7 linked regions of the Homo sapiens genome follow. The protein of the gene in region 3 purifies or fractionates together with the protein of the main gene of each other region. This does not show direct contact. Each region holds a gene or a part of one and is shown on either strand. Other genes may lie near its edges.

The links.
Region 1: the proteins of TCEANC2 (region 3) and RAD18 purify together in Homo sapiens (affinity purification with mass spectrometry; 2 studies listed by BioGRID and IntAct, with this or other methods). This does not show direct contact.
Region 2: the proteins of TCEANC2 (region 3) and DCAF1 purify together in Homo sapiens (co-immunoprecipitation; 3 studies listed by BioGRID and IntAct, with this or other methods). This does not show direct contact.
Region 4: the proteins of TCEANC2 (region 3) and UBXN7 purify together in Homo sapiens (affinity purification with mass spectrometry; 2 studies listed by BioGRID and IntAct, with this or other methods). This does not show direct contact.
Region 5: the proteins of TCEANC2 (region 3) and CTR9 purify together in Homo sapiens (affinity purification with mass spectrometry; one large-scale study listed by BioGRID and IntAct). This does not show direct contact.
Region 6: the proteins of TCEANC2 (region 3) and PHKG2 purify together in Homo sapiens (affinity purification with mass spectrometry; one large-scale study listed by BioGRID and IntAct). This does not show direct contact.
Region 7: the proteins of TCEANC2 (region 3) and HTATSF1 purify together in Homo sapiens (affinity purification with mass spectrometry; 2 studies listed by BioGRID and IntAct, with this or other methods). This does not show direct contact.

Annotation. Positions count from the first base shown.
Region 1 is NC_000003.12:8,900,973-8,904,472, forward strand, and holds part of RAD18 (E3 ubiquitin-protein ligase RAD18), read right to left. Parts: intron 1,549-3,500; coding exon 1,408-1,548; intron 1-1,407. UniProt on the Homo sapiens protein: E3 ubiquitin-protein ligase involved in postreplication repair of UV-damaged DNA. Postreplication repair functions in gap-filling of a daughter strand on replication of damaged DNA.
Region 2 is NC_000003.12:51,423,516-51,427,015, forward strand, and holds part of DCAF1 (DDB1- and CUL4-associated factor 1), read right to left. Parts: intron 2,494-3,500; exon of another isoform or gene 2,395-2,493; intron 1-2,394. UniProt on the Homo sapiens protein: Acts both as a substrate recognition component of E3 ubiquitin-protein ligase complexes and as an atypical serine/threonine-protein kinase, playing key roles in various processes such as cell cycle, telomerase regulation and histone modification.
Region 3 is NC_000001.11:54,102,108-54,105,607, forward strand, and holds part of TCEANC2 (transcription elongation factor A N-terminal and central domain-containing protein 2), read left to right. Parts: 3' UTR 1-3,500.
Region 4 is NC_000003.12:196,366,428-196,369,927, forward strand, and holds part of UBXN7 (UBX domain-containing protein 7), read right to left. Parts: intron 3,085-3,500; coding exon 2,994-3,084; intron 1,729-2,993; coding exon 1,601-1,728; intron 1-1,600. UniProt on the Homo sapiens protein: Ubiquitin-binding adapter that links a subset of NEDD8-associated cullin ring ligases (CRLs) to the segregase VCP/p97, to regulate turnover of their ubiquitination substrates.
Region 5 is NC_000011.10:10,754,246-10,757,745, reverse strand, and holds part of CTR9 (RNA polymerase-associated protein CTR9 homolog), read right to left. Parts: intron 2,789-3,500; coding exon 2,549-2,788; intron 2,069-2,548; coding exon 1,951-2,068; intron 998-1,950; coding exon 908-997; intron 1-907. UniProt on the Homo sapiens protein: Component of the PAF1 complex (PAF1C) which has multiple functions during transcription by RNA polymerase II and is implicated in regulation of development and maintenance of embryonic stem cell pluripotency.
Region 6 is NC_000016.10:30,754,925-30,758,424, reverse strand, and holds part of PHKG2 (phosphorylase b kinase gamma catalytic chain, liver/testis isoform), read right to left. Parts: intron 2,244-3,500; coding exon 2,153-2,243; intron 2,059-2,152; coding exon 1,905-2,058; intron 1,836-1,904; coding exon 1,710-1,835; intron 1,622-1,709; coding exon 1,328-1,621; 3' UTR 950-1,327; coding exon of another isoform or gene 771-949; 3' UTR 1-770. Other genes in the region: CFAP119 (cilia- and flagella-associated protein 119), read left to right, coding at 771-949. UniProt on the Homo sapiens protein: Catalytic subunit of the phosphorylase b kinase (PHK), which mediates the neural and hormonal regulation of glycogen breakdown (glycogenolysis) by phosphorylating and thereby activating glycogen phosphorylase. May regulate glycogeneolysis in the testis.
Region 7 is NC_000023.11:136,510,219-136,512,846, reverse strand, and holds the end of HTATSF1 (17S U2 SnRNP complex component HTATSF1), read right to left. Parts: coding exon 2,628-2,628; intron 2,040-2,627; coding exon 834-2,039; 3' UTR 501-833; downstream 1-500. UniProt on the Homo sapiens protein: Component of the 17S U2 SnRNP complex of the spliceosome, a large ribonucleoprotein complex that removes introns from transcribed pre-mRNAs.

The sequences.
Region 1 (3,500 bases), on a different chromosome or scaffold from region 3:
TCTCAAGTGCTAAACTAGTTTCTAGAAATATCCTTTAACAACTGCATGAACAAGTTCGAGTTGTTCAATGACCATGAGTTACATACTGAGGCAGCACTTTATGCACAAATTGTTTATTAGTCACTAGGGAAATGCAAATCAAAACCACAATGACATACCACTTCACATCTACAATTTTTAAAAAATTTAAAAATCAGAAAATAACAAGCATTGATGAGGATGTGAAGAAATTGGAACCCTCATGCTTCGCTGGTGGGAATGTAAGATAATGCAGCCACTATGGAAAAGTTTAACGATTCCTCAAAAGGTTCTAAACATAGAACCAGCATATGAATCAGAAATCGCACTCTAAGCTGAAACTTAAATATCTGACCACCAATGCTCATAGCAGCATTATTTATAAGAACCAAAAGGTGGAAATAACCATAGCAGATAAATGGATAAACAAAATATGACATATACATACTATGGAATACTGTTTAATCAAAAATTTTAAAATATTTTAAAATTTTAAAATGTGCTACAACATTGAAGGACTCTGAAAACATTATGCTTAGAGAAAGAAGCCAACACACAAAGACAAATATTATACAATTCCATTTATATGAGGTACCTGGAATGGGCAAACTCATAGACACAGAAAGTGGAATTGTTATTACCAGGGCTATGAGGCAGAGGGGACGGAAGAGTTGCTATTTCATGAGTGCAAAGTTTGTGCTGGGAATGATGAAAATGTTTTGGATATAGACAGTGGTGATAGTTACACAATATTGTGAATGTACTTAATGCCAATGACTTGTACATTTATGAAGGGTTAAAAAGATAAACATTGTGTTATGTATATTTTACCACAATATAGAAAAACATAATAAGCAATTTTCTTGCGCACTTTCCCCCATTATGATTCTTTTTTGTTCACTGGTCCAAAGCCCAGGCAATAGAATTAAAATATCAATTTCAAATTTTAAAATGGATCAAAGTTAAGGAACGTGCTCTGTATTAGCCTACCAGGTATGTTAACTTTAGACTGTTTGGCAGAACATTTCATCCAAAGTAAACACCAGTGTTCTATCACAAAAATAATTCACTCTCTTTACAGGATCTCCACCAATAAATTCTATATCTAGAAAACATCCTGAAGCTTAAATAACAAAGAAATTTATGATTTATCATTAACTGAAAGGACGATAGACAAAAAGAGATTGTTTCTTCAGGACATTCTTCCAACCACTTTCCCCATAGTAATAAATCTAGTTTACAAACTGCTACATGAAGTTTGTCTAAAAATACTTTTTCTCATTTCAAAGAACTAAGAACTCCAAAGTAAATTTCTTTGGTTTAATTTTTTCATATTAAAAGTAAATAATGAAATTCGACATATGTCTGTTTTTAATTATAGTCTCTTACCCATGCATACAGAAGATAGCTTTTCTGTAGATTCATCTTCTTTTGTTATTGTTACTGTTTTTTGTGACATTCCAGCAATTTTCTTGTATCCTTTTCTAGCCTGATCCACCAGAAGCTGAAATTCACTCTTATGTTTTTTACCTGAAATTCAAAAGATCTTCTCAGTAAAGCTAGGACTATGAAAGTTAACCATCTACAACTGACAAACTGAATATCAAGAGGTGTACAAGGGATGGGCATGGTGGCTTACGCCTGTAATCCCAGCACTTCAGGAGCCTGAAGTGAATGGATCACTTGTCAGGAGTTCGAAACCAGCGTGGCCAGCATGGTGAAACCCCATCTCTACTAAAAATACAAAAAAAATTAGCCAGGTGTGGTATCACATGCCTGTAATCCCAGCACTTTGGGAGGCCGAAGTAGGTGGACCATTTGTCAGGAGTTCGAGACCAGCCTGGCCAACATGGTGAAACCCTATCTCTACTAAAAGTACAAAAAAATTAGCCAGGTGTGGTATTGTGTGCCTATAATCCCAGCTACTTAGGAGGCTGAGGCACAAGAGTCACTTGAACCTGGGAGGCAGAGGTTTCAGTGACCCGAGATTGCACCACTGCACTCCAGCCTGGGCAACAGGGCAAGACTCTGTCTCAAAAAAAAAAAACAAAAAACAAAAAACAGAGGTGTACAAGCTTGCTCAAGAACAGCATCCTTAGGAATCACTTGCAATAAATTTAAAAGCTGCCAAGCATAAGAATACAAAGGGCTGGAGTGTCATGGAACCTTCTTTTTATCTTCTCCCTTCCTCAAATACAAATATGGAAACATGATATTCCTAGTTAGCTACTCTAGGTTTCTTCCCAAACTCCATTCTCTAGAAAGGCTTTTACATAATCATAAGAGCATGAAAGATGCCCGCTTTCTTAAATATATACAAATGATACCATTCTAACTTCCAAGATACAAGAGAACTAAGAGTATTTGCTGAATCTAAAATAGAAGCTTCTAGGAAAGTTGAATCATCATAACAAAGGAATGTCCGTCTACTCCAGCTCTCCTTTTTTTCTTCACATTTCCGGCCGGTTTCCCAGTAGAGCCCCTTTAAGATTCTAAGATCTCTCCCAACCAATTCTACCTTATCTTACGATACTATACTAACTCTAATCTTTATTTACTACCATTTTAACACCTTTGAATATAATTAACCCTGACCTCAAGATCATCATTATTAATGTACCAATCTGTTCAATAAAGAGCAGCCAGTCATCATTACTGTATGGACTTTAGGGCATGTATTTGTGATTCTGAACCATGCAGCTGAGGTCACAGTTTACTTATCTAGCAACGTTAAATACTTAGGCCACAGTCCAAAGTAATGTCATAAATCCTATAAAATTTTTAGGGAGAACCATACTACAAATGGTTAAAACAAAATTTTGACACTGTTTTCATACAAAAATCAACAATGTACTTGTTATCACTTGGTTTCTTCCATTTTCCTTAGCATAATACTAAGGCATAGGGAATTTACTGGGTGTAGGGAAAAAATTGTGCTTCAGTTGAACTATGGCATTGTCTAAATCTACTCTCCCAAGATTCCAGCCATTCACTGCCTTTGAGCTATGGTATAACTCTGTATGTTGTAGATAACTGAGAGCAATGGAAAATAATTCTTGTCTATAGATATGCAAAATCCTGTTGGGTGGAGGTTCAATTGACTTTCCTCCTCCAATGTGGAAGAAGCCAGTTTTTTGCTCATTATACATTCATTTCAATGTTCCTCATCTGTAAATGTGATGATTCTTTGGCTCCTTCTTTGATCACCTCATAATATCAGTCTTCTCTCTACTAATGAGTTTAAATCTTTAATAAAAACACATGTTCATTTTACATCCATATGAGAATGATGTTAGTTGTTTTTGAAAATTATCTTTTAACGCAAAAAGAGAAAACACTAAATTGTGACGCACAAGGAAGAAAATAGTTGGATTCCTATACATGAATATTGACAGGCACAGCAAAGACATTCAGGAAAGAATGCTCCTAATTACAATATTTTTATGTGTATGGTACATGTATGAAAACTTCTAGTGAAACTA
Region 2 (3,500 bases), on a different chromosome or scaffold from region 3:
AAGAAAAGAAAAAAGACTCAGGCCGGGTGCAGTGGCTCACGCCGGTAATCACAACAATTTGGGAGGCTGAGGCAGGCGGATGACCTGAGGTCAGGAATTCAAGACCAGCCTGGCCAACATGTTGAAACCCCATCTCTATTAAAAAATACAAAAACCAGCCAGGCATGGTGGTGGGCATCTGTAATCCCAGCTACTCAGGAGGCTGAGGCAGGAAGAACTGCTTGAATCTGGGAGGCAGAGGCTACAGTGAGCCAAGATCACACCACTGCACTCGAGCTTGGTCAACACAGTGAGACTCCGTTTCAAAAAAAAAAAAAAAAAGAAAGAAAGAAATAATCAGAAGAATTTATGTATTAAGATGTTCATTAGCCACATTAAAATAGCAAAAGAATGAGAAAACCCACATAGACAAGAGCACCATATGTGTTAGAGTATAGTACACTCATAAACTACAGCCATTGACAATCATTTTCAAAGAACCCTAAAGAATGAGGGAAAGGGTTCAAAATACAACATTAATGATATAAAAATAAAAAATGTAAGATATAAAATTAAAAATCTGACAATACCAAGTACTGGCAAGAAAGTAGAGAAATGTTGGATGTCTTTTGTAGTTAAAAAAGAAAAAACCGGCTGGGTGTGGTGGGAGACCAGGGCAGGTGGATCACGAGGTCAGGAGTTCAAGACCAGCCTGGCCAATATGGTGAAACCCTGTCTCTACTAAAAATACAAAAATTAGCTGGGCATGGTAGTGGGCGCCTGTAGTCCCAGTTACTCAGGAGGCTGAAGCAGGAGAATCGCTTGAACCCAGGAGGCGGAGGTTGCCATAAGCCGAGATTGCACCACTACTGCACTCCAGCCTGGGTGACAGAGCAAGACTCTGCCTCAAAAAAAAAAAAGAAAAAAAAAAGTAGAGAAATGAAAGCTCCTATATATTGCTGGTGGGGGATGACAATGGTATGAACATTTTTAGAAGCAATTTGGCAATATCCAATAAAGGTAAGAACACAGACACCCTACAAACCAGATGCTCTACATCATATCCTCAAGAGAGCCTCCAAAAGGAGGTTCATGATACCATTTATTTAATAGCCAAAAAAACCAAACAAAAACACTAAATTAGCCATCAATGGCAGAATAAACTGCAGTATAGAAATACAGCATTTTAAATAAATATCAACATATATAAATCTCAAGAATATAAGGGTAAAAAAAGCAAGCTGTGAAAGATGAACTTAGGAAAATATTTATAATTTAAAAACATGCAAAGCAGTATGACGTTATTATTTATGAACACACAGATATATATAGTATAAAAACATGAGTGGGGAGAATATGGTTCAAATTCAGAAGATGGGTGACTCTGGGGAGGCAGAAAAAGAACTGAGCCAAAAGCAAATACAACAACATGCCAATCCTGGTTAATGATGGAGCAGTTGTTAAACTATTCTCTGTGCCTTTCTATGTTTTGAAAATATTCATAAAAAAGATGAATTTGATTAAAAGTATAATATTAATTATGTGTATTTGCAAATATTACGTAGTGAATGCTAAGAGTAATTTTCTTTTCTCTTTAAAAGATTCTGCATATTCTAAAGCAGAAACATTTATTAATTTTATTTCTAAAAATAAATTTTTAAAATCAAGGACATATTTTTTCAATAATCCAAATACAGGCCGGACCGTGTTTCATGCCTATAATCCCAGCACATTGAGAGGCTGAGGCAGGCAGATCACTCAAGGCCAGGAGTTCGAGACCAGCCTGGCCAACATGGCAAAACCCCGTCTCTACTAAAAAATGCAAAAAGTAGCTGGGCTTGGTGGTGCGTGTCTGTAATCCCAGCTACTTCAGAGACTGAGGCACAAGAATCACTTGAACCTGGGAGGTGGAGGTTGGAGTGAGCCAAGATCCTGCCACTGCACTCCAGCCTGGGCAACAGAGCAAGACTCTGTCTCCAAAACCAACAAAAAAATAAATAAACACAGATGTACCAGTTTAAAAAATGTATTTATACCCTTTCTAGTTATCTTGTAAGCTGTCATCTTTTTTTTTTTTTTTTTTTTGGAGACAGAGTCTTGCTCTGTTGCCCCGGCTAAAGTGCAGTGGCACCATCTTGGCTCACTGCATTCTCTACCTCCTGGGCTCAAGCAATCCTCCCACCTCAGCGTCCCTAGTAGCTGGGACTACAGACATGCGGCAACACACCAGGCTAATTTTTTTTATTTTTGGTAGAGATGGGGTTTCACCATATTGCCCAGGCTGGTCTCGAACTCCTGATCTCAAGCAATCTGCCCGTCTCAGCCTCCCTAAGTGCTGGGATTACAGGTATGAACCACCACGCCTGGCCTATCATCACTTTTTAAACAATTCTCCAAATAAATATAATAACCTACTTTTCCAATATTCTAAAACAGCACTTCTCAAAGTATAGTCTGGAGACCTCTAGAAGTCTGAGACCCTTTCAGAAGGTCCTGTGAAGTCAAAGCTATTTTCGTAATAATAAGATGTCACTTTCCTTTTGCACTCTCATTCTCTCATTGCATAGTAAGAGAGTCTTCCAGAGATGATGTGATGTCACAAAAACTGAATACAGAAGCAGATATGAGATATTAGGCCAGACATTTTTTCAAACTTGCTAAAATTATCTGGTTTTATTTTGGAAATTTTTCATGAATAACGCAAACATGCAATGGGTTCACTTTTTTTTTTTTGAGATGAAGACTTGCTCTGTCGCCTAGGCTGGAGTACAGTGGCGTGATCTCAGCTCCCTGCAACCTCTGCCTCCTGGGTTCAATTGATTCTCCTGCCTCAGCCTCCCAGGTAGCTGGGACTACAGGTGCGTAACACCACCCCCGGCTAATTTTTCTATTTTTAGTAGAGATGGGGTTTCACCACATTGCCCAGGCTGGTCTCAAACTTCGGACCTCAAGTGATCTGCCCACCTCGTCCTTCCAAAGTGCTGAAATTACAAGCATGAGCCACTGTGCCTGGCCCACATTTTTAATGCATAAATATTTTTACATTTTCTGTTTTAATTTCTAATACTGATAGATATAACACAAAAACAAAAGCCTTTTAGAGTTCTCAGTAATTATTAATATGGTAAAGGTATCTTGAAACCAAAAAGTTTAATAACACCTGCTCCAAGAGTACCTTACAATATTTAAATGCTGGGATTTAACAAACTTACTATATTCCCCTAAATAAGCCCCTCTCTTATCTTTATGGCAGTGAGTGAATAGGAAAAGAAGGTCAAGCACTCTGTTTATAAACTTTTTTACTATCTTCTCTTAAGACCCCATCTTTTTCAAAACAGTTTTATTTCTTTTTATATCATCTTCAAATAGAACCTACCCAGTTTCCTGATTACATCAGCCACCCTTTTCTGGGCCTTGTCCTGCTCTGCCTTAAACTAATTTGTGAAAATCCTAACAGTATGTCGAATTCCAAGAGTAAAAGGACAATTTTATATGAACGTAATATAAACATTATATATGGT
Region 3 (3,500 bases):
CATATCCCACACCTAGGAATATGCTCCATCCATGTACCGGATGACACAGAAAGTTGTGTTTTGATTGGGGCCCAGAGCAGGAAAGGGCTCAGCAGAAGCTCCAGGCTACAACACAAGTGGCCATGCGGTGTGGGACAGATGAGCTGGCAGAGCCCAAAGTACCCGAGGTATCTGTGGTGGGAACAGATGCCTGTGAAGTTTATGACAAGACCCTACAGGAGAATCACAATGTAGACACCTGGGGTTCTGGAGCAGGGCCATGCCATCTGTAGCCAAGAATTTTATACTTCTTAAGAAACAACTCTTGATGCTACAGGGTTCTGGTAGAGACAGATCATCAGACCATGGATCATCAAGTTGACCATGTGACCAAAGCTGTTCATCATGAGCTGGATTCTGCCATATCCACCAAGTCATAAGGTCAGGCAAAGCCAGCAGCAATTCCTAAGATAGAAATAATACAACTGGGGTTGGGCATAGCAGGGCCAGAGGGCAGAAGATAGTTACGTGAGCAGGTGGCCCAGACATCTATGTCATCCACTACCTTTGCACCAGTACCTGCCTGTTCCTCATTTCACACCTTTGGCTGCCTGGGGAGCTCTTTATAATATCCAGCTGATAGAAGAGAAAAAAAGCCATGCCTTATCCTTAGATAGGTCAGCTCAGTGTGTGTGAGCAAGACAAAAAAAGACCGTGGCTGCACTGCAGCCCCACACAGGGGCATCCTTGAAAGACAGCAGAGTGGGGAGTCCTTCTAGTGGGCATAGGTTGTGCATCATGCACCTAGCCATCCACTGTATGTGGAAAGAGAAGGAGCCTGAGCTTAGACTATACATGGATCTCATGGGCAGTGGTGAATGGCTTGGCTGGTTGGTAAGGGGTCTGAAAGGAATAAGATTGGAAAATTGGAAACAAGGAGACCTGTGGTGGAGGCATGTAGTTGGACCTATAGGAGTGGGCACCAAGTGTGAAGATCATTGTATTCCATGTAAACACCCACCAGAGAGCACATACCATGGAGAAGCACTAAACAACAATGTACACACAGTTGACATCAACCAGTCTCTGAGGCCACCCCAGAGCTGACACAATGGGTGTATAAACAGCAACCATGGTGGTGTAGTAGTCCATTTTCACACTGCTATAAAGATACTACCTGAGACTGGGTAATTTAAGAAGGAAAGAGGTTTCATTGACTCAAATTTCTACATGGCTGGGGAGGCCTCAGGAAACTTACAATCATGGCAGAAGGCAAGGGGAAGCAGGCATCTTCTTCACAAGACAGCAGGGGAGAGAGAGAGTGCAAAGGGGGAACTGCCAAACACTTTGAAACCATCGGATCTCTTGAGAAGTCACTCACTATCATGACAACAGCATGGGGGAAACCGGCTCCGTGATCCAATCACTTCCCACCATGTCCCTCCCTCAACACGTGGGGATTATAATTCGAGTTAAGATTTGTGTGGAGACACAGAGCCAAACCATATCAGATGGTATGGCATGGCTCCCACTCACCAAGACTGATCTAGCTATTGCTGCTGCTGAGTGTTCGGCCTGCCAGTAACAGAGACCAACTCTGAACCTAGATATAGCTCCATCCCTTGAGAACAACCAGCAGCCACTTGGGAAGTTGGCTATATTAAACCCTGTCTACCCTGGAAAGAGCTGTGATTCATTTTCACTGGCATAGATGTATATTCCAGATACGAGTTCATCTTCACTGCTTGTAGAGCTTCATCCAGCACAACTCTCAAAGGGCTTATAGAATGTTTAATCTACTGGGATAGATTATGGGATCTATAGATTATGGGATAGTCATACAGGATCCCATATGATTCCACAGCAAAGGAGGTGCAGCAGTGGGCACATGGTGACAGGGTCCACTTGTCCTTTCATCTACTGCGCTATCCTGAAGCTGCCAGCTTGCAACTGTGTCGAAGGCACAGCTGGGGCACCAGCTCAGAAACCCTGAGAGAAGAGCTGCCATCCTCCAGGGTGCAGCACATGTTCGAAATCAAAGACCGTTACGTGATGCTTTGTCTCCAATAGGTAGAATACATGAGTCCAGGAACCAAGAAATGAAAGCAGGAGTGCTCTCACTCTTACCATCACTTCTAGTGACCCACTTGGAGTGCCTCCTGTTCTCATAGTTCTGGGCTCTGCAGGTTTAGAGGTTTTGAGTCACAAAGGAGGAACACTTCCACTAAAAGAAACATCAAGATTACTATGAACTATTAGCTGTGACTGCACCCGGGCACTTGAGCTCCTCATATCAGGAGACTACTAGGCAAGAACAGTCACCATTCTTTGAGGGATAATTAATCCTGATCATCAGGAGGAGGTACAGCTGCTGTTAAGCAATGGAGGGAAGGGAGGTATATCTTTGGTACTCAGTTGATTCACGTGGAGACTTCTTGGTATTCCTTTGCCCAATTTTTTTTTCTTTTTCTTTTTCAGAGGTGGAGTCTCTGTCACCCAGGCTGGAGTGCAGTGGCACCATCTCGGCTCACTGCAACCTCTGCCTCCTGGGTTCAAGCTATTCTCCTGCCTCAGCCTCCCGAGTAACTGGGATTACAGGCATGTGCCACCATGCCCAGCTGATTTTTGTATTTTTAGTAGAGATGGAGTTTCGCCATGTTGGCCAGACTAGTTTTGAACTTCTGGCCTCAAGCAGTCCACCTGCCTCAGCTTCCCAAAGTGCTGGGATTACAGGCGTGAGCCACTGCGCCTGGCCCCTTGCCCAATATTTATAAAATAATTATACAAGTGCCCAGACCGTGACCTGAGCAGGATATGCTGACTTCAGGCTCAGCCCCCTCAGGGCTGAGGGTCTAAATCATGCCTCCGTGGAAGTGACGGAGACCGGAACACGTGCTGGCTGAGGGTAAGGAGGATCTAGAATGGATAGTAGAAGAGGGAGATGATGAGTATCAGTTGTGGCCTCAAGACCAGTCAGTGATGGAGGTTGTAGTTTGTCCAACTTACTTTCCTAAGTTTCCCCCAGGAAAGGAGGTCCACCAGAACTTAAACCAAAAAGTAGAGCTGAGCAGCACAAATGTGGGCTGTAGTGGACACCATCCTGTGCTGCCCAGACCCCCCAGCCACCATGCTTCCTGGGCCTCTTCCCACAGCTACTGGGAGTGCTCTCAGCCAGCAGCCTTCAGCTGTCAGCCCCCTGGGAATTTTCCTCAATGGAAGAGTTACCTCACTGACATACCCCTTTCCCAGGCAGGTCAGTTCAAGGTTATGAAGGCCTGGCCCCACTGCCTCAACTTGACAACTTGGAAGGGCCATCTCAGCTTCAAGACCCTCCCATGAGACTGGCTGAGGTCTTCATACAGCATCGGAGCCCAATTTATCTCTCTGAGCAATCCTGCTTCCTTTCCTGCCCCCTTCCCAAGAGCAATCCCTGATAAACTTCCCGCATGCTAATCTCCATCTCAGAGTCTACTTTCCAAGGAAGTGGGCCTATAACATAGCTCTTCCAGTTTTTGTTAACA
Region 4 (3,500 bases), on a different chromosome or scaffold from region 3:
ATTGACTGAGCCCAGGAGTTCAAGGCTAGCAAGTTTTTTTTTTTTTTAAAGTTCTCTCAAGGCTGCAAAGACTACAGTGAGTTAATATCATGCCACTGCAGTCCAGCCTGGGCAACAGTGTGAGACCACATCTCAAAAAATACAATACAATACAATAAATACAATACAATACAATAAAAATGTTGCTAGGTGTGGTGCTCACACCCAGAATCCCAACATTTTGGGAGGCTGAGGCGGGAGGATTGCTTGAGGCCAGTTTGAGACCAGCCTAGACAACATACGGAGGCCTCCGTCTCTACAAAACTTTAACAGCTTAGCTGGCATGGTGATGCACATCTGTGGTCCCAGCTACTTAGGAGGCTGAGGTGGAAGGATCGCTTGAGCCCAAGAGGTGGAGGCTGTAGCGAGCCATGATCACACCACTGCACTGCAGCCTGAGAAATGGAACAAGATCCTGCCCAAAGAAAAAAACAGGACGGGCGCGTTAGCTCACGCCTGTAATCCCAGCACTTTGGGAGGCCGAGAAGGGCGGATCACTTGAAGTCAGCAGTTTGAAACCAGCCTGCCCAACAAGGCGAAACCCCATCTCTACTAAAACTACAAAAATTAGCCAGATGCAGTGGTGTACGTCTGTAATCCCAGCTACTTGGGAGGCCAAGGCAGGAGAATCGCTTGAACCCAGGAGGCGAAGGTTGCAGTGAGCCAAGATCACACCACTGCCCTCTAGCCCTAGCAACAGAACAAGACTCTGGCTCAAAAAAAGGAAAAAAAAAAAACCAACAAAACAAAACTATTTTTATCCCTACTGCTATCAAAGCCAAACAGCCATGAAAACCAATGTGAGATTGCTGTATCTTTGCAAGTTCAGTCTCTTATTTGCAACCAATCTTGATACCAATTATCAAACATGTCTACCTAGTAATAGTATATTCTAGAAATTAAGTATAGAAGTAAATTCTAGGAGGGCCAGAGAGCCAGGCCCTAAAGCTATATTAACCAATAAAAATGCTCAACTATACCATGACAGTTGTTTCAGCAAAAACAAAAAACACCACTTCCAGCCGGCTGTGGTGGCATGTACCTGTAGTCCTAGCTATTCGGGCAGTTGAGGTGAGAAGGCTGCTTCAGCCCAGGAGTTCTAGGACAGTCTGGGCAAAACAGCAAGATCCCACTCCAAAACAAAAAACAAAACACACAAAAAAACCAACCACTTTCACTGCTATTTAGACCTGGATATCAGAAGCCCTCCCAGAGCTGCCCCTCAGGAAGTAGACACCTTTACCACTAGGCTTGCCAGGTCAGTCCTCCTGCCCAACCTATTCACATTGCTTCCTTCTAAATCCAGATCCTGGGGCATCTGCCTGCACTCTAGCTGCAAGACAGACTGGCAGGAGTATGAGTATCATGATTTCACCAAGAAGATGGAACTCTCATGTGGGAAATTATCAAAATATAAGGAGGATATCTAAGATGCTATAGCCACAGTGATAGTTGTCCACTAGTTAGATTATCTTTACCATCTTAACATCGAACATTTTATATAAGATGCTTATGACCAATTACATTTATTTTCCCATCACCACCTCCTAATTATACTTACTGAACGGGCACATTTTTTGGGGGGACTGCTAGAAAGTCCATCCAGTTGTCCATGTTCACCCAGAAATCCCGTCACTTGGTCCAAGAAAGAAGATACATCTAACTGGTGCCATTCTACTAGCTTCTGACCTAAGGATTAAAAACCAAGATCTATAAATAAATATAATATCTAGAATCCTTCTGAACATTCTCCAGGATCTATAAATATAATACCTAGAATCCTTCTGAACACTCTCATTAAGTATCTCTTTCAGCATATGCATAGATTAAAAACCTGGATCTATAAAGGTAATATCTAGAATCTTTCTGAACATTCTTATTAAGTATCTCTTTCAGCATATGCATAGATTAAAAACCAGGATCTATAAAGGTAATATCTAGAATCTTTCTGAACATTCTCATTATCTCTTTCAGCATATGCATACATTAAAAACCAGGATCTGTAAATATAATATCTAGGATCTTTCTGAACATTCTCATTAAGTATCTCTTTCAGCACATGCATAAAGTGTACTGTAAAGACATATCCTCTCCACCAGCTTATGCTACATAGTGTCTTCATAACCTAGAAGTCACATCAATTATACTCACCTAACAGATTCCCACCCGTAATGATAGGGCAACTATCTTATCTGCTGCTATCACTTACTGCCATTTAGGAAGAAGAGATTCAGACAAAGCAATATCTATATAAAACACCATCAATTAATAAAACCAGCTCCACCCTCTGCTTCTCAGGTGGGATTACAACTAGTATCTGGGCAATCTTAATATTTTAATGATAAAAAAAACTTTTGTCTTGTTTTGTTTTTTTGAGATGGAGTCTCACTCTGTTGCCCAGGCTGGAGTGCAGTGGCGCGATCTCGGCTCACTGCAACCTCCACCTCCCGGGTTCAGGCCATTCTCCTGCCTCAGCCTCCCAAGCAGCTGGGACTACAGGTGCCCGCCACCATGCCCGGCTAATTTTTTTTGTATTTTTAGTAGAGATGGGGTTTCACCGTGTTAGCCAGGATGGTCTGGATCGCCTGACCTCATGATCCGCCCACCTCGGCCTCCCAAAGTGCTGGGATTACAGGCATGAGCCACCACGCCCAGCTGGTAAAAAAACTTTTAAAAAATCCCTTAAAAAAGGTAAGATGAACATATCAGTTATTCTTCAAAAGAACAGAACTGCACAAACATAAAATACTACCATCTCCCAATGTTGCCAGAAAAAGATGTCCTAAATACATACATCAATAGATGTTTAAATAATTATAAAGGGAAAAAAACGAAACCTTCACCTAAATTACTGCAATTCTGAAAACAGATCCAGTCAAATATTAAAGATCAATCATTTAGGTAACTGAAAGACAAGTAATAGGTTAAAAGCTGCGTGCTGATATAAATCTTACCTGTCCGTGGGTCCAATATGGAAACATAGGGGAAATCCCCTAACTTATAAAACTGTATGTATCTCTGACCTTCCTCACTGTCATGATAAACCTGTTAAATCATTGATATAAAAAAAAAAGTCAGCCTCTAAGAAAAGAACCAACTATAACCTTCTTATACACCAACATCAATTAGCTCTCCAAATATACCTCCGGCCTATGTATTAAGATCTCACTCCTACACTAAAAAGAAAATAAATCTGGTTTGAACTCCTTCAACTTCCCACTTCCAGCACTCTCTGGAAATTTACCATAAACATATTGACCCATTCCTCCTCCTTTCCCAGTTCAGATGAGGTATTATTCTTCCTGCTCAAGTTATCTGTCAACTATGTCATTCATAACTCTCAACCATATACATCTTAATAAATCACAATATATTAAGATTATGGGCCAGGCATGGTGGCTCACGCCTGTAATCCCAGCACTTTAGGAGGCCGAGGCGAGTGGATCACAAGGTCAGGAGAT
Region 5 (3,500 bases), on a different chromosome or scaffold from region 3:
AACTTTTGTCTCTTTGGTTAATTGCTACATTCTCAGGGTTTAGAACACTGCCTGCCACATAGTTGGTACTCAGTAAAAATTTGCTACATGAATGACATTTTGGAAAGAAAAATAGTATAGGGCAAAAAGATTATATTATAATCTACTATCCAGACTTTTTTTTTCTTGAGACAGGGTCTTGGCTCTGTTGCCCAGGCTGGAGTGCCGTGGCATGAACATGGCTCACTGCAGCCTCAAATGCCTAGGCTCAAGTGATCTTCCTGCCTAGCCTCTTGTGTAGGTGCGACCACAAGCACTACCATGTGCGGCTGATTTTCTGTAGAGATGGGGGTCTCCCTTTGTTGCAAAGGCTAGTCTCAAATTCCTGGGCTCAAGCAATCCTTCTACCTCACCCTCCCAAAGTGCTGAGATTACAGGTGTGAACCAGTGCAGCCAGACCCTATCTATTTTTTTTTCCCCTTGAGACAAGGTCTTGTTCTGTTGCCCAGGCTGGAATGCAATGGCACAATGATGGCTCACTGCAGCCTCAACCTCCCAGACTCAAGCGATCCTCCAGCCTGAGCCTCCTAAGGAGCTGGGACCACAGGTGTGTGCCACCATGCTCATGTAACTTTTTTATTTTTTGTAGAGACAGGGTCTTACTACGTTGCCCAGGCTGGTCTCAAACTCCTGGGCTCAAGTAGTCCTGCCTCTGCCTACCAAAGTGCTGGGATTATTGGCATGAGCCATTGCACCTGGCCTTACTATCCAGCTTTTGACTCAAACATAGCATCAAAAAAAAAACTTGATTCTGACATTTCTATAATCCAACAATATCTTTTCATAACTTCATAAGCAACTGACAAATCCTCAATGCTTTAAGCTGGGTAATACACAGTTTAGACATAAAATAAAATTTTTCTCTTACCTGGACATCCTGGGTTAGTACGCAATGCTTTCTTATAGTAAGCAAGAGCTCCTCTGTAATCCTTCTTGTTGAAGGAAATGCAAGCTTTACCTGTAATGATTTTTAAAAATAAACACAGTGTCTGATTAAAGGCTACAAGTCTATTATGTTTTACACTAACTTATCTAAGTTAAATACATCTCTGAGTGAGAAATACTTGAAAACACAGAACAAAATTTCATATTAAAAATTTGTTTTTCATAAAAGTATACTAATTTATGTCTAAAAATAAAACTTCCTATTTTTATGTTAAATGTTATAAAGTTAGCAAACTAACATAGGAACAGAAAACTGAATACTGCCTGTTCTCACTTATAAGTGGGAGCTAAATGATGAGAACACATGGACACAGAGGGGAACATCACATACTGGGGCCTTTTGGAGGGTGGAGGGTGGGAGGAGGAAGAGGATCAGGAAAAATAACTAATAGGTACTAGGCTTAATACCTAAGTGATGAAATAACCTGCACAACAAACCCCCATGACCAAGTTTACCTATGTAACAAACCTGCACTTGTACCACTGAACTTCAATAAAAGTTTAAAAAATGTTATAAAGTAATAATTGAAATAACTTTAAGTTGTCTAAGTAGAGATTGTTTATTGGCTCTTCAGAAGTGTATAACCAATTACTCTTTTTTGAAAAAATTATTTTTTGTAGAGATGGGGTCTTGCTATGTTGCCCCAGCTCGTCTTGAACTCCTGGCCTCAAGTGATCCTCCTGCCTCAGTCTCTCAAAGCGCTGGGATTACAGGTATAACGAGACAGGGTCTCAAAGTGCTGAGATTATACCATGCCTGGCCTAAATAATAAATTATTCTTAACTGGTATATATTTTATTTCTACAATTTCAACAATATTTGTTGTAGGTAATTTCATTTGTAACAACATAAAGCTCTTCTACTTTGCTGTCTAGCTGAGTTATTAAGGAGCTATTACCAAGAGATATATTCTAGGCATATGCTGAAAACAACTGTTTCCTAACATGTTGCCAAAGACCACTTACCAAGAAGGGCTGGAATATTATTTGGAGACTGATTGAGTACAAAATGAAACTGTGCATCAGCTTGATCCATTTTGTCACCCTCAAGTAGGCAGAAGCAGGCTCTTCCCAACAAATGGTTCTATGAAGTAATGTATTATCTTAGATTTTACCCCTATATACCATGAACATGTAACACTAAAGTGAAAACCAAATAGGAAGGAGGTGGAGCACAGTGCAAATTCCCCTATCAAATGTAACGTGCTTAAGCTACTAACAAGCAATTCTTAATTACAAAATAAGAAATTATCCTGAAATGTAAGTCTTCTGTGCCAATAACAACAACCAAAAGAAAAATTTAAATTCCTTAAAATATCCTTGAAATTCACCTGGAGATAATAAAATTACTGGAGCAAGTTTTATGTACTACATTTGTCCATATTACTTAAACAGTACAAAAACCAAAGCATTCCGATTTTAATGAGGAACCTTTCTTCTTTTTGACTCTATCAACCATGTTACTTGAAGAAAAACTCTTTCAAAAAATCTGCTATCACACACATTTTGCTTTCATGTGCTTTTCTCCCTTCATAAATGGAAAGAAATTTGACTTTATTTTTACCTGATCATACATAATAATTTTATCGGCCATTGTATACAACAAGGTGGCCTGTGTAATAAGATCCTTTTTATTGTCCTTATTCTTTTCTTTCCGAGCCTGTTGTACATAATACGCTGCCAATGTATCCAAGCAAGTCATCTGGTCTTTTTCATGGTCTCTATAGTCCAAATTGCCATCTATACGTGCTGCTTCCAACAATTTTACAAACTCTTCTGTTTTTCCTTGCTTGTAGTATTCCAGCTATAAGGTAATGAAACAAATTAGAATCACTAAAGCATATGTCCATATAAAAAGTTGTACACAAATGTTTACAGCAGCTTTATTTGTAATAACAAAAAACTGGAAACAATCAAAATGTTGATTAACAGGTGAATGGATAAACAAGCTGTGGTGTATCCATAAAATGGATACTATCCTACAATGAAAAGGAATGAACTACTGATACATGCTACAACATGGATAAATCTCAAAATAATTATGCTGAATGAAAGAAATCAGACCAAAAAAAGAGTACATATTGTGTGATTCCATTTATATAAAACTCTAGAAAATGTAAAACAATCTCTAGTGTCAAAAAGCAGACCAGTGGTTGTCTGGCACAGGGATTAGGGGTGGGGTGGGGGACTTGTGGGGAGTGGTACAGAGGACACTTTCAGAAGGTGATGAATGTATTCATTAATCTTGATTGTGGTGATGGTTTCACAGGTATATACAGATGATAAAACTTATCAAATGGTAAATGTCAAATATGTGCAGTTTATTATAAATCCATTAGACTTTAATAAAACTGTTTAAAAAACTGGAATCATTCACAATGTTCCCAATCTGCTGCTTATCTAGTTGATTTCTAACTAAAATTTTCAGATAAGTAGAGCCTAAGAGAGAAAACAATAGTGAAAGATATGAAGAATTCTAAATAGAAAACTTGGGTTCTGGTTCTAGATCTACCAAA
Region 6 (3,500 bases), on a different chromosome or scaffold from region 3:
CTGCATGTTCTGCTCGTATCCCAGAACTTAAGAGTTAAAAAAAAACAAAGAACAGGCCAGGTGCAGTGGCTCACAACTGTAATCCCAGCACTTTGGGAGGCTGAGGCAGGCGGATCACGAGGTCAGGAGATCGAGTCCATCCTGGCTAACACTGTGAAACCCCGTCTCTACTAAAAATACAAAAAGTTAGCCGGGCGTGGTGGCGGGTGCCTGTAGTCCCAGCTACTGGGAGGCTGAGGCAGGAGAATGGCATGAACCTGGGAGGCAGAGCTTGCAGTGAGCTGAGATCGCTGCCACTGCACTCCAGCCTGGGGGATAAAGCAAGACTCCATCTCAAAAAAAAAAAAAAAAAGAGAAAGCCAATGACAATAACAGCCAGCACATACTTGGCAATAGGTGTGCAGTGCATGCCCTGCTCTAAGCATTTTACATAAATTAACTCATTTAATCCTCCCTCAATCCTATGTGCTAGGTATCACTATCCACATTTCATACAAGGAAACTGAGGCACAGATAGGTTAAATAACCTGCCTAAGGTCACACAGCTACTGAGTAGGGATCAGAATTTGAAGCTGCAAAGTCCAGCATAGCCACCCTACCCAACTACCTCTCACACAAGGGCTTGCTAACATTTCCTAAAGGGAAACAACATTGCTACCTCTATATCCCCACCAGGGGAAATTTGGGGACTGTTTGCCCAACTAGGGACCATCCCCCCATTGCCAGACAGCATCTCTCCTCACCCTGCCCCTTCTTCCCTGCCCCTGCAGGCCACATCCACGTCCTCCGAGCCTACATCAAGACCCAAGTGAACAAAGAGCTGGAGCAGCTCCAGGGGCTGGTGGAGGAGCGGCTCAAGGCCAGCGAGGAAAGGCTCAGCAGCAAGTTGACTGCACTAGAGCGGCCCTTCCAGCTACCTCCGGGTAAAGGCAAGAGCAAGACCAAGTGACCCCCAACATTTTCCCCAATAAAGGTCTGGGCCAGAATGGCACCATCCCTGCACCCTGCTGAGCACCTTCTGGGCTTTCCTGCCCAAGCCAGACAGACACAGGACACCTGTTCTCCCTGGCGTGTAGCAGATTTTATTTCATATGCAGTGCATGCAGCACTGACCGGGCCAGGCGTGGCGTTCAGAATGGCTCCCTTCCACCCCAGCTCTGATCTCAGAGTCCTGGCCAGTGGGGAGAGAGGTACCGGGCTGGTCTTCAAGAGGGTAGCAGGATCATTAGTGGGCCTGAGGCCAGAGGCCAGAGCCCAGAGGAGCTGGAATGATCAAAACCCTTCTTCTGGAGAGTTCTGCTTCCTGGGAATCCCTGGGGTTGAGGTCCTAGCCCAGCACAAGCACGGCCTCATCCTCAGTTATAGCAGCAGAGTCTCCCTCCTCTTCAGGGCCCATGATGGGAAAAGGCCCAGGGGGCCGGTGCTGAAAGAGAGCCGCCCGGTTCTGCTGCTCCCCTTTCTTTACCCAGTGCCCGTAGAGCCGGAAGGCACAGTTGTCGATGAGGTGCCGCACTGACCGCAGCGCATAAGGGTCCCTCAACAGTGCATTCTTGGTCAGTGGCCGTACACGATGGGTGCTTAGGGCCACTCGTCCAGCAGCCAGCACTGTCCACACTGCCACCTGGGAAGGGGGGCAGGGTGAGCTCTAGTGCAGGGGAAAGATCATGGGACAGAGAAACGGGCCCAGACCCTGATACACTCAGGCTTACCCGGAACCGCTGGCGGGGGGTGAGGTTCCAGGGTTGGCTGCCTTCACAACGCTCAAAGAAGGGGTGCTGTAGGGCCTGCTCAGCTGTCAGGCGTGCCTCAGGATCCACCTGCAGCAGCCTGGAGATCTAGGAGAGACCCAGAGCATGAGGGGCAGCTCTTGGGCCTCCCCTACTGTCCTCTCAGCCCCCGCTCACCAGGTCTTTGACAGTGCTGGAACGGTCATCCCACTCGGGGGAACTGAACTGGTACTGGCCCTCCATGATCATGCGTAACATCAGGATCTGCCGCCGGTGCCAGAAGGGTGGCGAGCCAGCCAGGAGTGTGAACAAGATCACCCCACAGGCCCAGCTGGGAAAGAGACTGGAGTCAGGCGGGACTAGGTGACGGGCAGACCCAGCAAAGGACAGCAAGCACGGGAGGGAGGGGGAGACCAGGAACTCACAGGTCGACCTCCTTGCCATAGCCTGGGTGGGTTTCATCCATGGAGCATTTAAGGATCTCTGGCGCTAGATACCCTGGGGTCCCACACAACTCTGGGGAGAGAGGACCAAGATTGAGGGGATGCCACCAGCCCCTCTAGGGCCCTTAGCACTGGATCTCTGCTGGAGCCTCCTCAACGCTGCCAGGACTACCAGTGTTCCCATCTTCCTTCTGTCTGCCTTCTGCCAAGTCTCCTGCTGAGGCACTATCCCTGCGCAACAGTTGGCTCACCATGGCTCCTGGTGGCCTTCCTAGGAAAACCTGGGTTTTGGATTGATTTCAAGGTCCTTGTTCCACCATATCATTTGCCTCCTCCAACCCTACCTACCCACTATCCAAGCCAACCTACCCACTCCTCACAACTTGTTACCTTAGTTTTATATATATCATAATGCATATGGAAAGATTATGTATTTTTACATACATCATAATACATACGCAAAAAAAAATTTTCTGCATTCCTATCTGCCCAAACCTCTTCCTCCTCCTATAATCTCCAACTATCACTCAACCCAAGGGGAAGAAGTGGAGATAAGGAATTTCTTTTCTTTTTTTTTTGGAGATGGAGTCTTGCCCTGTCGCCTAGTCTGGTGTACAATGGCATGATCTCGGCTCAATGTAACCTCCGCCTCCTGGGTTCAAGCGATTCTCCTGCCTCAGTCTCCCGAGTAGCTGGGATTACAGGCACGTGCCACCACGCCTGGCTAATTTTTTGAATCTTTAGTAGAGACAGGCTTTCACCGTGTTGGCCAGGCTGGTCTTGAACTCCTGACTCGTGATCCGCCCACCTCGGGCTCCCAAAGTGCTGGGATTACAGGCGTGAGCTACCGCGCCCGGCGAGCTATGGGATTTCTTAAAGCACATAATGGGTAAGTCCTTTGTTTAAAACCCTTCCCTGATTCCACATCATGACACATGATCAAATCTACAGTTCTAAAGTCCAGAGCCCTCCAAAACTTTATCCAAGTCTGTATTTTTATATTTATTTATTTTTAGAGACAGGGTCGCTATGTCACACAGGCTGGAGTGTGGTGGCACTATCACAGCTCATTGTAGCCTTGGGCTCCTAGGCTCAAGTGAGCCTCCTCCTTCAGCCTCCCGAGTAGCTGGGGTGACAGATGCGTGCCACCACGCTTGGCTCAAGTCTGTATTTTTAGTTTGTTCTACCACTCGGGCACCAATTCTTCCAGTACTTTCTGAACCTTGTTCCATGGCACACTTCCAGGAGATTTTAACAGCCCCGAATTGAAACTGACTTTGTTGGGAAATTCATTCCTACACCAAGTATTTCTTGAATGCCAAGTTGCACT
Region 7 (2,628 bases), on a different chromosome or scaffold from region 3:
CAACTGAAGCATGCATGAAGTTCTTCAACTTCAGGGAATCCATGAACCTCCCCAAACAGTACACAAGTTGTGTAGTGTAGTGTGTACATTTTTTTCTGGGAAGAGGTCCTCTAATTTGAATTAACTTCTAAAGGGGCCCAGAGACGCTAACAGTACAAGGTAGAATTCTAATCTGTTTCTTTAGATTTTTAATAATAATGGGAGCTGTAGACTGCAGGAAGTTCACTTTTGCACATCTGAGAGTCAATTTTAATGGAAAGAGGGTAGAAAACAAACAAGAGTTAATTTGCAAGGACTGGGCAGAAAAAAAAAATCCAGAGGGTTGTTTTCTGAGTTTAGGAACATGTTCTGGTTTATAGAGAGGAAATGGAGACATACGTGCTAATACCAGCGGGAAGCAAGGAGACTCCAAAGAGATTCTTCAAGTCCTCAGAAAAGCCAACCTTCAGTATAAATAAAGCAATATCAAGAATTTAAAATGCAATTTAACTCAAGTCCAATTTTCAGTTTCTGCATATTATCAACTCATTTTTATTGATGAATATCACAAACTTCAATCAATACTCTTAAAAATATTATTCTGCATGCATTTAACAAATCTGACAAAAGAACAAGTATCCAGTTTACTTGCATTGTAACTATGACATTTTAACTAAACAATCAATTAACATATATTTAAAACCATTAGGTACAGGTAACAATGAAACACTTCAATGCTTTAATCTGATGGCATCCTACCACTATGCACATGTTCATGTAACACTACTAGTAATTACCCTGAAGCACAGGCAAATGTAGATGGAGGACTCTCCCTAAAAAGCAAGTTTAAGGGATTAAATATCATCGTCATCATCATCGCTACTGAGAATAAAGCTGCTGCCAGTGGATAGGGGCCCTTCTTCAACACTCCCAAAACCACCCAAAGTCCCCCTCTCATCAGAATCGTCAAACAACTTCTCACTGGAATCTTCCTCCTCATCAAACAACTTCTCATTGGAATCATCATCTTCGAACAACTTTTCGTCAGCATCTTCAACTTCCTTTCCATCTGCATCTTCATCTTCCTTGTCATCTGACTCTTCAAACAGCTTTTCATCTGCATCACCTTCTTCCGCCTTTTTATCAGCAGCTTCAAGCCCCTTTTCATCTGCATATTCTTCATCCTCTTTCTCATCAGACTCATCATCAAATACTTTTTCATATGTATCCTCCTCTTCTTCCTTTTCATCTGAATCTTCGTCAAACTCTCTCTCAGAGCCTTCCTCATCTAACACTTTTTCAGAGCCGTCATCTTCAAATTCGGAGTTTTCAGAGTCATTTTCTTCTAACTCTTTGTCAAGAACATTTTCATGAAGCTCCTTTTCAGAACCTTCCTCGTCCAAATCTTTCTCGAGACCATTTTCTTCAAATTCTCTTTCGGAGCCATCTTCAGACTGTTTTTCAGAGCAGTCTTCATCAGACTCTTTCTCTGAGTCATCTTCTTCGGACTCTTTTGTGGGGCCAACCTCCTCTTCAGACTCCTTGTTGAGGTCATCTTCAGATTCCTTTGCAAGGCCATTCTCTTCACAATCATTTTTGAGTGTCTTCTTTTTAGACTCTTTTTTAGGACTATCCTCTTCAGATCCTCTTACGGGATTGCCTTCTTCAGACTCTTTTTGGGAGCAGCTGCCTTCAAACCCTCTTTTGGGGCAGCCCTCTTCAGATTCTTTTTCAGGGCAGCCTTCTTCAGCCTCTTTTTCGGGGCTACTTTCCTTAGCATTGTTTTCAGAAGCACCTTCTTCAAATTCTCCCCCATCTTCTGTCTTTTCAAACTTCTTCTCATCTATAGGTTCTTCAAACGCCATTCCAGTTGCAGTTTCTTGAGCATTCATTTTAGATGTGCTGGGGTGCTCTGAAAAATGCCTTGCTCTAGAAGGCCCTGCCCTTTCGGAAGCAGAGACAGAATCTGAACGCCTAAGGCCTCTGTTGGCCTCAGGAGCATTGAGGAAAGCCTCCCATCCTCTCAGCCTTTCCTCCCTTTCTCTTGAGGTTTCCTCCACCTGTGGATAAATGGAGACTGCCATTAAAATAAGTTTCAGGCAAAAGGTTACTTCTCTGAACATATCTAATATTGATGAAACAACCTTAATTTTATAAAGCATCTCTTATTAGGAAATGAAAGCAATTCCATCTTCAGTTTTCAAAACTTTACATCTTGATTTACTAGAGTTGACCTTAAATAAGACCACTTAAATAAAGGCCAAATATCACAGTACTGCAGAAATGTCTCATCTCTTAAAAAGTTAATATTTGAGCTCTGTCTATACTTTACAGCATACAAAGGAAGAGTAACATTTGGTTGAATGTGTTCTTTTCTTATCACTATTCTGAACAAGCCTCAAACTTTCAGACTTAGAAACTGAAAGACTCAAACATTTCTCTATCTTCTGAATGCAAAATATTATTTAAAAGCAGCACTGTAAATAATTAAGAGGAAGAGTAAAAAATTAAAATATATAAGTAAATAAAAATAAAAGAAGCATTGTTACATTAAATAGGTTAAACCAAACCCAAAATTTAGATCTGAAGGATCAGTATTTGTTGGTAATGAAACAATGTGTGTGCCCTTGACAAGCAGCAAAATTTACC